Regions from separate parts of the Homo sapiens genome. Here region 1 is linked to region 2. Evidence: fine-mapped expression QTL. A gene starts in region 2. The other region holds a variant in brackets. All regions are shown on one strand. Distances are between the middles of the regions. Region 1 overlaps BBS9 (Bardet-Biedl syndrome 9). Region 2 holds the start of RP9 (RP9 pre-mRNA splicing factor).

The links.
Region 1: its variant is fine-mapped to the expression of RP9 in whole blood (INTERVAL, PIP above 0.99).

What each region holds. Positions count from the first base shown.
Region 1 is chr7:33,368,285-33,373,284 of GRCh38, forward strand. All of the region lies in intron 17 of BBS9 (Bardet-Biedl syndrome 9), which reads left to right. Among named protein-coding and RNA genes, the nearest start is that of BBS9, 240 kb to the left of the region's middle. The variant A/G (reference allele first, on the strand shown) is at 2,687.
Region 2 is chr7:33,106,653-33,112,184 of GRCh38, forward strand. It overlaps RP9 (RP9 pre-mRNA splicing factor), which reads right to left and starts at 2,752. Exons shown (of 6, transcript NM_203288.2): 1 at 2,569-2,752. The coding sequence starts at 2,720. RefSeq lists silencers at 2,408-2,637, 2,648-3,127.

The DNA of each region.
Region 1 (5,000 bases), 260 kb after region 2:
TTGGACATTGGCAAAGATGACAGTGAAAGTGGATAGCTTTTGCTGAGTGTAATTTCAGTAGGCAGAAAGGTGTAGTAACTATATAGTCAAGTTTGAATTTAAATATGCTTTATTGATTTGGTTGCTTTATGTATGCGAGAATAATAGTCGAAACTAGTCAATGTAAAACTAGCTCTTGACATATGTAGTATACTGAAGCTACTGAGCTTACTGAGTTATACACACCTTCATGGGAATAAAGTAAGATATTAAGAAAGGAAGTATTTAACGAATCTGTATTGAGAGAAAAAAGTACACACACACACACACACACACACACACACACACACACACCCATACCCCCTTGAAATAGTCTGGCTCAGGACATTCCAATTAAAAAAAAAACTCTAGTTTTTCTGGTGAGCTTTCACTTTCTACCCATGCATTTGCAGTTGTAGTTGGTTATTGCTTTTCTAATAATAAGAGTACAATAAGGCCATCTGTTTTTGAAAAAGAAAAGTATTAGCAGGAGGAACAGACATCCCATTTAGAAACTGTAACAATGTTTTTATGGCTAAAATCATAATAGTTTCTGGAATATGTCAATTGGTGACTGGTAAAATAGACTCAGATACTATTGAAGACTCAATAATAGGTCACAGAAATAACAACTCTGAGAAGAAAGAGGAGATTCTTTATTTTCATGATTTTTCTGATTGGTCATGATTGCAGTATTCTTTACATTGGCATCATTTTTTAAAAAACAAATCATTTTATTTTGATAAGAAGACTTAACATGAGATCTATCCACTTAAAATTTCAAATGTATAGTTCAATATTGCTAACTGTAAGTACATAGCACCATTTTGCTTTGATTAGCTTTAATCTCCAGTTGGATGGTAGAACCATTTTGGTGCATTTCTCTTAGTTTAACAGTTATCCTTGGTTAAACTAAAAAAGTTATGCCAACATTTCTTTGGGAAATTGTACACATTTGTTTGACTGCAGTTGATGGTGCCATATAATGAATCTGCAAATGAGACCATTAAAAAAGGCAAAAATTTTTGCAAATGAATATATTTATATCCTAATGTATTTTATTTATAACTTTTAATATAAAGTAACAAGTAGAACCCTGATGTTGCCCACGATTACCTTACTGCTATCTAAATTTTACCAAAAATCAATTATATATCTGATTTATTCTCTTTGTCTGAATGTATGGCAATTCCCTGACTTAGCATAGTGTAGGTACACAAAATCAAATAATGGAATAGGACAGGACCTTTTAAACAAGGAGCCAAATAAACTGTGTAAATTGAAACCTGAATAATAGTCATTACAATTCTATGATGGTTTTTGGCTACAGTGACACACAGAATCCTACCTAGGAGATGCCTATGGTGATGGAGAGAGATAGGTATAAGGAGAGTGTACTTTTCTGAGATTGAGGCAGATGTTGGTGCTCCTACTGCTTTATCAGAGTATTCATTCCTAAGAAAGGAATGAAGTAATTTGTACCCAATCTGTGTTTGACATTTTTCATTTTTTGAAAGGTACCTAGTATTAATTGTAGTCCAGCAATCTGCTTTACAGAAAAATCCTACAAATGAAAGAACCTAGTATTTCTTCCATAGTAAACAGTCAAATGATTCATAAGTCACATAGAATTGTCCTTGACTCTTGGATAGTATTTTCTGTGGGTTCCGTGTATTCATCTCTTTTTAAAACCTGCTTGGTAATCAACCAAGCCTTCATGTATGCTGTATGGCGATTTTAGTTCCTTTTTCTGATTCAGTATAGACCAGTCAAAGCAAACAAGAGAAAAGTAAGGTGTAGCTCATTGTCTCAGACACCAAACCAAATTCCCTGGGGAACTGAGTAGGATTATATTTTTAGAAAGCAGAATAGTAGCTGGGTGTAGCAGCTTACCCCTTTAATCCCAACACTTTGGGAGGCCAAGGTGGGAGGATCGCTTAAGCCTAGCAGTTCAAGACCAGCCTGGGCAACATAGTGAGACCTAGTCCCTATTTAAAAAAAAAAAAAGAAAAGAAAAATTAGCCAGTTGTGGTGGCACATGAATGTAGTCCCAGCTATTCTGGAAGCTGAGGTGGGAGGATCACTTAAGCCCAGGAGGTTGAGGCTGCAGTGAGCTGAGATTGCACTACTGCACTCCAACCTGCGCAACAGAGTGAGACCCTGTCTCAAAAAAAAAAGTAGTGCTTAAATTTGGGAAAAATATGCTAGCAACATTTCTGAAAACTGTTATCACAGTCCTAAATTAAAAATAACGGGAAAGTTCTACTTTTGTGAGATCAAATGTTTTTATAATTAATATTGCAAAATATTTCTGCGTGGATGTCTATAATTTCGAGTGATTCAGTATAATGGGATTTCAGAAAAATATGCTATTATGTAAATACGTGTATATTCTTACGCTGCTTTCCTAAGGTCCAGATCCACATAGTGACTTATTACCATATACAACAAACACTGCTAGCTCTCTCTCCCCAGTCTCTCCTGCCCCTTTCTGTTTCTGTACTTTTCTTGGTCTTGCCTCTCTCTGGTTCTGTTTTTATCTTTTGTCTCTATTTGTACATTGCCTTGTTCTACTTGCTTCTTAAAGAATTTAGAAGAGTTTAAAAGTATCCAAAATATGAAAAGAGAAAATAAGTATTTCAAGAAATCAGAAAGAGAAAATCAGAGC[A/G]GGAAACTAATAAAGGTAGAAATAAGATTAATACTCAGAAATACATACTGTATGATCAAAAAGGTGCTAGTCACCTAAAATAATAAGAAATCATTTTGTTTCCATTTTCAGAGTGTTCAAAATATTAAACCTTTTGTTGAGGAGATGCACACCCTTTACTGATGCTGAGTCAAAGATGAAATTTCGCTTATGAATATTCAAAAAGACAGTTCCTTTAATAATATCTCTATAGTTTATATAATTATAAAGATTATGCTTAAGTAATTATGAGAAACAAATTTCACAGAACTTTAGAAAATAATGATAAAACTCCATTTATTAAATATAATTCTCCCTGAGCCCAAATCAGTGTGGTCTAAGCTGCAGCCTGATCCAAGGATAAATTTTGAGTATCTAGTTTTGCAAGTTTTCAGTATCTAGTGTTTTCAATAAGGATTGAGCAACCAATTTCAGTAACTCAGAATTGAGATGTAGGATGAAGGAGGTGTGTATTTTGTTTTTAAATGAGCAATATTAGAACATGTTTGAACATTAATTTAAATGATTGAGTTCAGTGGGAGAGGTTGATGATCAGGAAAGAGAAGTGGATCATAAGTCCGTGAAGAAGAGAGAGGGGATGGGATGCAGAAGCTTGCGGGAGGGTTTGAGGAATAGGCCTTTGTAACTTCTCTGTAACAGGAGGGATCGTATGTACACCTAGGGAGACTTTGTAGATTTGTTAGTGGAGAGATAAAGGAGCTTTGATAATGTATAAATCTGAAAAAAAATAGTGAGAAAATAAGAAAGCAAACTCATGAGGGAAATAGGCATTGTGGAATTTCCATCTAGAGTTTGAGATCCTACATTTTGAATTGAAACCAGCCATCCTTTTTAGGTGATTTTCCCTGGAAGTGATTTGTTTATCAGCATCTAAGCAACTAAAAACAGGGCTCAGATTTTAAAACAGAATTACAGATAAAATGTTTTTAATGAGACTGATTATCATAATGGACTACCAAATCTGAGATGGTAAGGAAATCGGTGACGATTAGAGAAAACTGATACATGGTGAAAAATTAATGGGTTCACCTGATCAAAATTCTTGAAAGTTTGAGGAAGTAAAGTAGTAGGAGTTATAGAGCAAGTGAACTAGGTTAAAAAATAAAAGGGAAAAAAAAGGTAGTGGTCAGAGAATGGATCAGATATTGAGAACAAGAGTTCAGAGAGATTGCAGATTCTGATAATGGCAAGCTCATCACTGGGGGACTGGATTGCTAAAGTGGAGAGAAGACCAATGGGGACAAAGATTTCAAGAAAATGAGGTATCACAGTTGTGGATATTGAAAAGGCCTGTTTGTATTGAGGTACATTCCTTGTGTACCTAATTTATTGAGTTTTTTTAAAATCATGAAAGGATGTTGAATTTGTCAAATGCTTTTTCTGCATCTATTGAAATGATCATATGGTTTTTGCCCTTCATTCTGTTAATATGATGTATCATGCTTATTGATTTGCTTATGTTAAACCATCCTTGCATCCCTGGAATCAATCCCACTTGATCATGGTGAATGATCTTTTTAATGTGCTGTGTTGAATTTGGTTTGCTAGTATTTTGTTGAGGATTTTTGCATCTTTGTTCATCAGGGATACTGGCCTGTAGTTTTCTTCTTTTGTTATGTCCTTATCTGATTTTGTTATCAGGATAATGTTGGCCTCATAGATTGAAATTTGAAAGTATTCCATTCTCTTTGATATTTTGGAATAGTTTGAGTAGAATTGTTATTAGTTCTTCTTTAAATGTTTGATGGAATTCAGCAGTGAAGCCCTCAAGTCCTGGGCTTTTCTTTGGTAGGAGACTTTGTATAACTGATTCAATCTTCTTACTCGTTATTGCTCTGTTCAGATTTTCTATTTCTTCCTAGTTCAATCTTGGTAGGTTTATGTATCCAGGAATTTATCATTTCTTGTAAGTTATCCAGTTTGTTGGCATATAGTTGTTCATAACAGTTTAATGATTCCTTGTATTTCTGTAGTATCAGATGTAATTTCTACTTTTTCTTTTATTTGAGTCTTCCTTCTTTTTTTTTAGTCCAAAGGTTTGTTCAATTTTCTTTATCTTTTCAAAAAACCAGCTCTTTGTTTTGTTGATCTTTTGTATTGTTTTGATGCTTAGCACAATGAATGAGAAAGTACACGCACACTCTCTCTTTCTCTCTCCCTCTCAGACAAAGCATTGTGGAATTTTAGAGCACTGAGGAGCGTATTCTTAAAGATTAGAAAGAAAAAAAACAAGTTACTCAAGATATGAATCAAGATGGCATTTAGCTTTTCATCA
Region 2 (5,532 bases):
GAATATACAGTTGGTGGGCGCAGCGGCTCACGCCTATAATCCCAGCACTTTGGGAGGCTGAGGTGGGCAGACCACTATGTCAAGAGATCGAGACCATCCTGGCCAACATGGTGAAGCCCCATCTCTACTAAAAATATAAAAATTAGCTGGGCATGGTGATGCACACCTGTAGTCCCAGGTACTTGGGAGGCAGAGACAGGAGAATCGCTTGAACCCAGGAAGTGGAGGCTGCAGTGAGCCAAGATTGCACCACTGCACTCCAGCCTGGGTGACAGAGCGAGACTCCATCTCAAAAAAAAAAAACAAAAACCAAACAGTTAAATCCCAGAAGTAAAACCTAAAAGTTTACACAGAGAAGCCTGGTTTGGGAGGGGGAAGAGGGACACAGGGAATATGAGTGGTTACTGAGGAGTTGGGCAGCCTATTGCTATTTTTTGGTAGCACTTTTAGTACTATTTGAATTTTAAAACTACATATTACTGTGGTATAAATACAATTTAAAGCTCAAACAAGATTCTGAACTGGCCAAAGCAAATGTCTCAACGGCTCATTCAGTTTTAAATCTCAGAAACTGGAAAAATCCCACCAGTCAATCAGACACCTGGGTTCAGCTCTAGATTTGCTGGTTAACTAACTGGTCAATGTATGCTTGATCACATGACTTAACCACTGTTCCTCCATTTTTTCATCTGTAAAAGTAGGTTATAATCTCTCTCATCTGTGAAAAAGCTCTCTGAGCTACAAATAAGTGGAATTAACCATCCTCTAGCATTCTATAGCTAAATATATTGAGGGCTGGGCAGGGCCAGGCATTCTGATGCTTACGCTAGGGGAAGATCTTTGAACACCTGACTTCCCTGGGAGACCAAGAGCGCCACACAGTGACTTGAAAGGGCCAGGACTGCCCTGTAACATGGATGCCCACAATGCAGGGTCTCTATCCTGCATCCCCTGCCCTGCTAAGGGGAAAAGTCGTTCAGAGCGGGCCACACTGGAAAAAGAGCAGGCCAGGTCCCAACATAGGAATTTATCTCACATCAAACCTCCCAGAAGGTTAATTATAAAAAGGATTTTAATTCTTTGAGGAACTTTTCTTATATGAATTATGTTTTTTAAAAGTAGACAAATTAAACTCTACTTGAGCAAAGAACTGTTTTCAAAGAGGGCACCCCCATAACCAGAATAGGTCCAGAGCAATTCTCAGGCTGCCACCTGGTGGGATAACATTTATGGACAGGAAAAGGAAAGTGATGTACAGAAAAGCAAATGAGGTAGAGAAATAGCTGGATTCCATACAGCCTGGCGTTTGCCTTCTTTGAACAGGGTTTCAAAGGCTGACCACCTGTGACGGCCTGAAAATCAGCTGCTGTGATTGTCTGAGACTCAGGTACTTATAACAGTAGGTTACAGTCTGTTTACACATCTACTTAGGTTACAGTTCACTAAGTACAGAGAAACTTTTAGGCTAAACTTAAAATATTCAAGGAGGCAGCGTTAGGCTATACTTAACACCTACTTAGCACAGGTAACTAGAAGTGGCTAAAACAGAAACGAATTCTTGAATAACTGAGTGAATGCCACACTTAGAAAAGGTTGTTTTATGCAGCTAATTATAGAATCACGGACAAGAACTGAAAGAGTTGCTGCCTGAACTTTCCACTCGAGGTCTGTGTTAGAATTTAGGAAACGCCACCCTGATAAATGACTGCAAAAGACAAGAATGCACCATCCCCAAACATGCCACCCTGGCATATTGATGACTTTGAGCTATAAGTAACAGAACCAAACAACACAGGATAACTTATTCAGCTACCCCTCAACTGCCTAAAATAAAGTATGACTGCTTTTTTTCCTTTTGTTCTTATTATTTTTCGACTCGCCTGTTGTAAACAGAAATTTACACCTATAAAGGAAATTTTCTGTAGTAAATGTATCTGTATCAGGAAGACAGCTGCTTGGGGGCAACTTTTATCGCCTGAGCGCCTCATCGGGATAACAAAGCAACCTTTATTCACCATACATTTCCCCCATCACCCTTCCAAAAGGTCTCCACCACGCCCCAAAAGGCCCACGCCCCTATTCCCTGGCCCTTCTTTGTCTCCCACTTTTGTGGCCCTCTAGTGCACGGGTACATAATTAAAAGTTTTTCTCCTGTTAATCTGTCTTATGACAATTTAATTTGTGGCCCAGCTTAAGAACTTAGAAGGGTAGAGGGAAACCATATTTCCTTCCCCTACATTTGAATCTTCTTTACACCACACTCTCCCGGGTCATTTGGACTCTCCTGGAACCCCCTGGAGCTAGGGAAGCGCAGGGCCTCCCAAGTCAGATTCTGCTTGGTGCCGAGCGGCAGTTGGCTCCCTGAACGCCCCGCCAGGAGGATGGACTTCAAGTCCTTGACCGCGGCGCCCGACATCGGTCGCCCGCACCAGGCTCCTGCCGGGCCCAGCCCCCCTGCCTGCTCGCGGGGGCTCGGAGGACCCGGCCTAGCGCCCACCGCGGCGTCCCGCGCCCCGGGCCCCTGGCTTCAGAAGACTGGCCGCGCGCGGACGGCAGCTCGGGACTCACAAGGACTCCAGGTGCTTGAGCTGCTGCAGCTGCTGCGCGTCGTGTCGCCGCCGCTTCTGCTCCCGACGTCGCTGCAGCTCCTGCTCCGGCGGCTCACGCGGCCGCCGCGCGCCCGCAGCCCCCACGTCCTCGCGCCCAGGCCGGGACGACATGTCAGCCCCCGCAGCGCCGCTCGGGCAACCCCCGCGGCGCGGCTCCGGCGGCGGCGGCGGCGGCGGCGGCAGCCAAGAGAGCACTTCCTCCGCGCGGCGGTCGCGGGGCTTCGCAGCGCCCCCTCCCGCCGCCGCCCCGCAACTCACCCCGGCGGCCCCGAAGTCTCAGCCTCGGCCACCCGATCCCCGCCTCCCCGCGTCGGGCCCCAAGTCAGGGGCTCCGGGTCTCGGGCCCAGCCGCCAGGCGGGCTGCTGCGGGTGGGTGGGGAGCGCCGCCTAGCTGGAGCCGAAGCGGGGCGAGGCGCTAGTTGGGAGCCTGGAGGTTCCCGCCCGGCCACACCCACCTCAGGTATACTAGCAACAGTCACATAGGGATGAGCAGATGAAATGTATTCATAAAAAAATGTTCAAATTAGCCAGGCGTGGTGGCGGGCGCCAGTAGTCCCAGCTACTTGGGTGGCTGAGGCAGGAGAATTGCTTGAACCCAGGAGGCAGAGGTTGCAGTGAGCCGAGATGGTGCCCCTGCACTCCAGTCTGGGCGAAAAAGCGAGATTGTCTCTCAGAAAAAAAAAAAAAAAAGTGTTCAAAAAGTGAAATGTATAAACATATAATTATGTTCGGTAATAGTGTGCACCCAGCTTTATAACTGCGGTCATCTGATATACCATGAGAGACAACCTAACTCTTTTGACAGGATGGGTCACCATGACGTCACCACTGTGCCAGTCACCCGAGGAGCCAAGATCCTGAGAAATTTCATCTTTCACAAATGCAGATGTACAGAAAAGACACTTATTTATTTATCGAGGAAATTTCTACATTTTTGCATATATGTAGAATGCTTACACAGTCACCATTGTAATAATGAGCTTTGATTGAGTCATATTTGCAAAAAATGCATAAAACAAATTTGAACTCTCTAAAAGTCTTTATATAGTTGATGCCTCCAGTATTAGAAATGATGTTAAGATGTAATACATAGCATAGTGAATTGTAAAACATAATGCTGACAATTTACAATAATGAAAAAGCTAAAAGAGAAAATAGAAAAACGAAAGCAAACTAAAAAGAAAATTCAACATAGAAAAAGTGTATTGCAGGGATAGATTATGGGCAATTGCATGGCGATTGTCCACATGAACTGCCCAACTTTTATGATGATTAACATATTTTGAAGTCTTGCATCATGATGAATAGCTTTTTTTTTTTTCTTTTAGGACATGGCTCTCCTCGATGATACAGTCTCATTAATTTTCTATGTGATACTGCTCTTTCCAAAATTCTTTTTAACTTTTTAAAGTTTTTTATTTTGTAGAGACGGGGTCTCGCTATGCTGCTTAGGCTGGCCTTGAACTCCTGGCCTCAAGCAATCCTCCTGCCATAGCCTCCCAAAACACTGGGATTACAGGTGGGAATCACTGCACCTGACTATGAAATTATTTTGTGATTTGATATTCTCTGACTTCTCTTTGTGCTTTCTTTCTGTTGTACCCTCCTGTCCATGAACCCCTCTGTTTTTCATTTTATTCTTCTGCCCCCTCCTAAGACACCAGAGATTCATTCTTGAGGCCAGTCAAGCAGCCTTGGTGTTGGCCCACTGGTGGGGCAGCTGCAGTTGGTCCTTAGTCTGTGCTACTGGACAGGTTTTAAACCTTTCAGAATGGAGCAACTAAAAAAAGAATAGATTTTCTCCTGCTTGTATTGATCACCCTTCACAGTGTAATCTTGACACCATTGTTTTGCTGCTAAGGTGTATTTTTACAAGCTCTTATCTTACCAGTGACCTTTCCCCACTGGGGAGATGAGGAGAGGAAAAAAGTAGGAGAAGGGAAAGATCACATGGCTAGATTAGAGAGTACAATGCAAAATCTTTCTTTTTTTCCTACCCAAAATACAAGTCTTCAAGGAACTCTCATGGTGAAGTGGACCCTCAGGCGTGCATGTCTATGGTCTTCTGCAGCGCAGTAGAAACATGAGAATCCCTTTGGTCATGCACTAAAAACAGCTGTTAAAATTACTTCTAGGGCCAGGCATGGTGGCTTGTGCCTGTTGTCCTAGGTATTTGTGGAGCTTAGGTGGGAGGATTGCATGAACCCAGGAGGTGGAGGCTACAGTGAGCCATGATCGTGTCACTGCACTCCAGCCTGAGTGACAGAGTGAGCCCCTGTCTCAAAAAAAGAAAAATTATTTCTATCCATCAATAGTTGCTAACCAGTAGGATCGGAGGGAAAATTGCAACGTGCTTTACTTTAGGCTTGCAGGTACGAAAGACTGAGGGAGGAAGGTCAGACACCAAACTTAATTGGTATTCTGGGGCAAATATTTGGCAACTGAGTTGACATTTCTCCTTCTCTTCCTTGCTACCAGCTTTGATTTTGTTCAGGAATCATACAGGAAGCTGGTTAGAGAGTGGAGGCCTCTTCATGCCTCTCTAGAGGTGAGTCTTGACTTGTCTTAAGCCAGTCATTAGTAATTTTGTTCTCGTTTCCACTGATTGTTTTAGCAATGGACCTGTGGTGCAATTTTAGCCAATGAGGTATGAGGAGAGGTCGGATGGAGGTGGCTTTCAGGGTAAGGTTGTCTTTGCTCTTAATAAATGATGCTTGGGAGTGTCAAAGATCCCCTTTCTGCCTCCAGATGTTGTTGCCTGCAACCCCCAGAGGATGGCAGAGGACAGAAGGAGACCCCTGGGTCCTTGGGGATGTGATAGAGACATTTGATCAACCAGTCCTGGTGTTGCTACCTATCCATACTTCTCATTCTGGGAGATAGTACATTTCTTTATTATTGAAGTGATTTTGAGTTGGGTCTT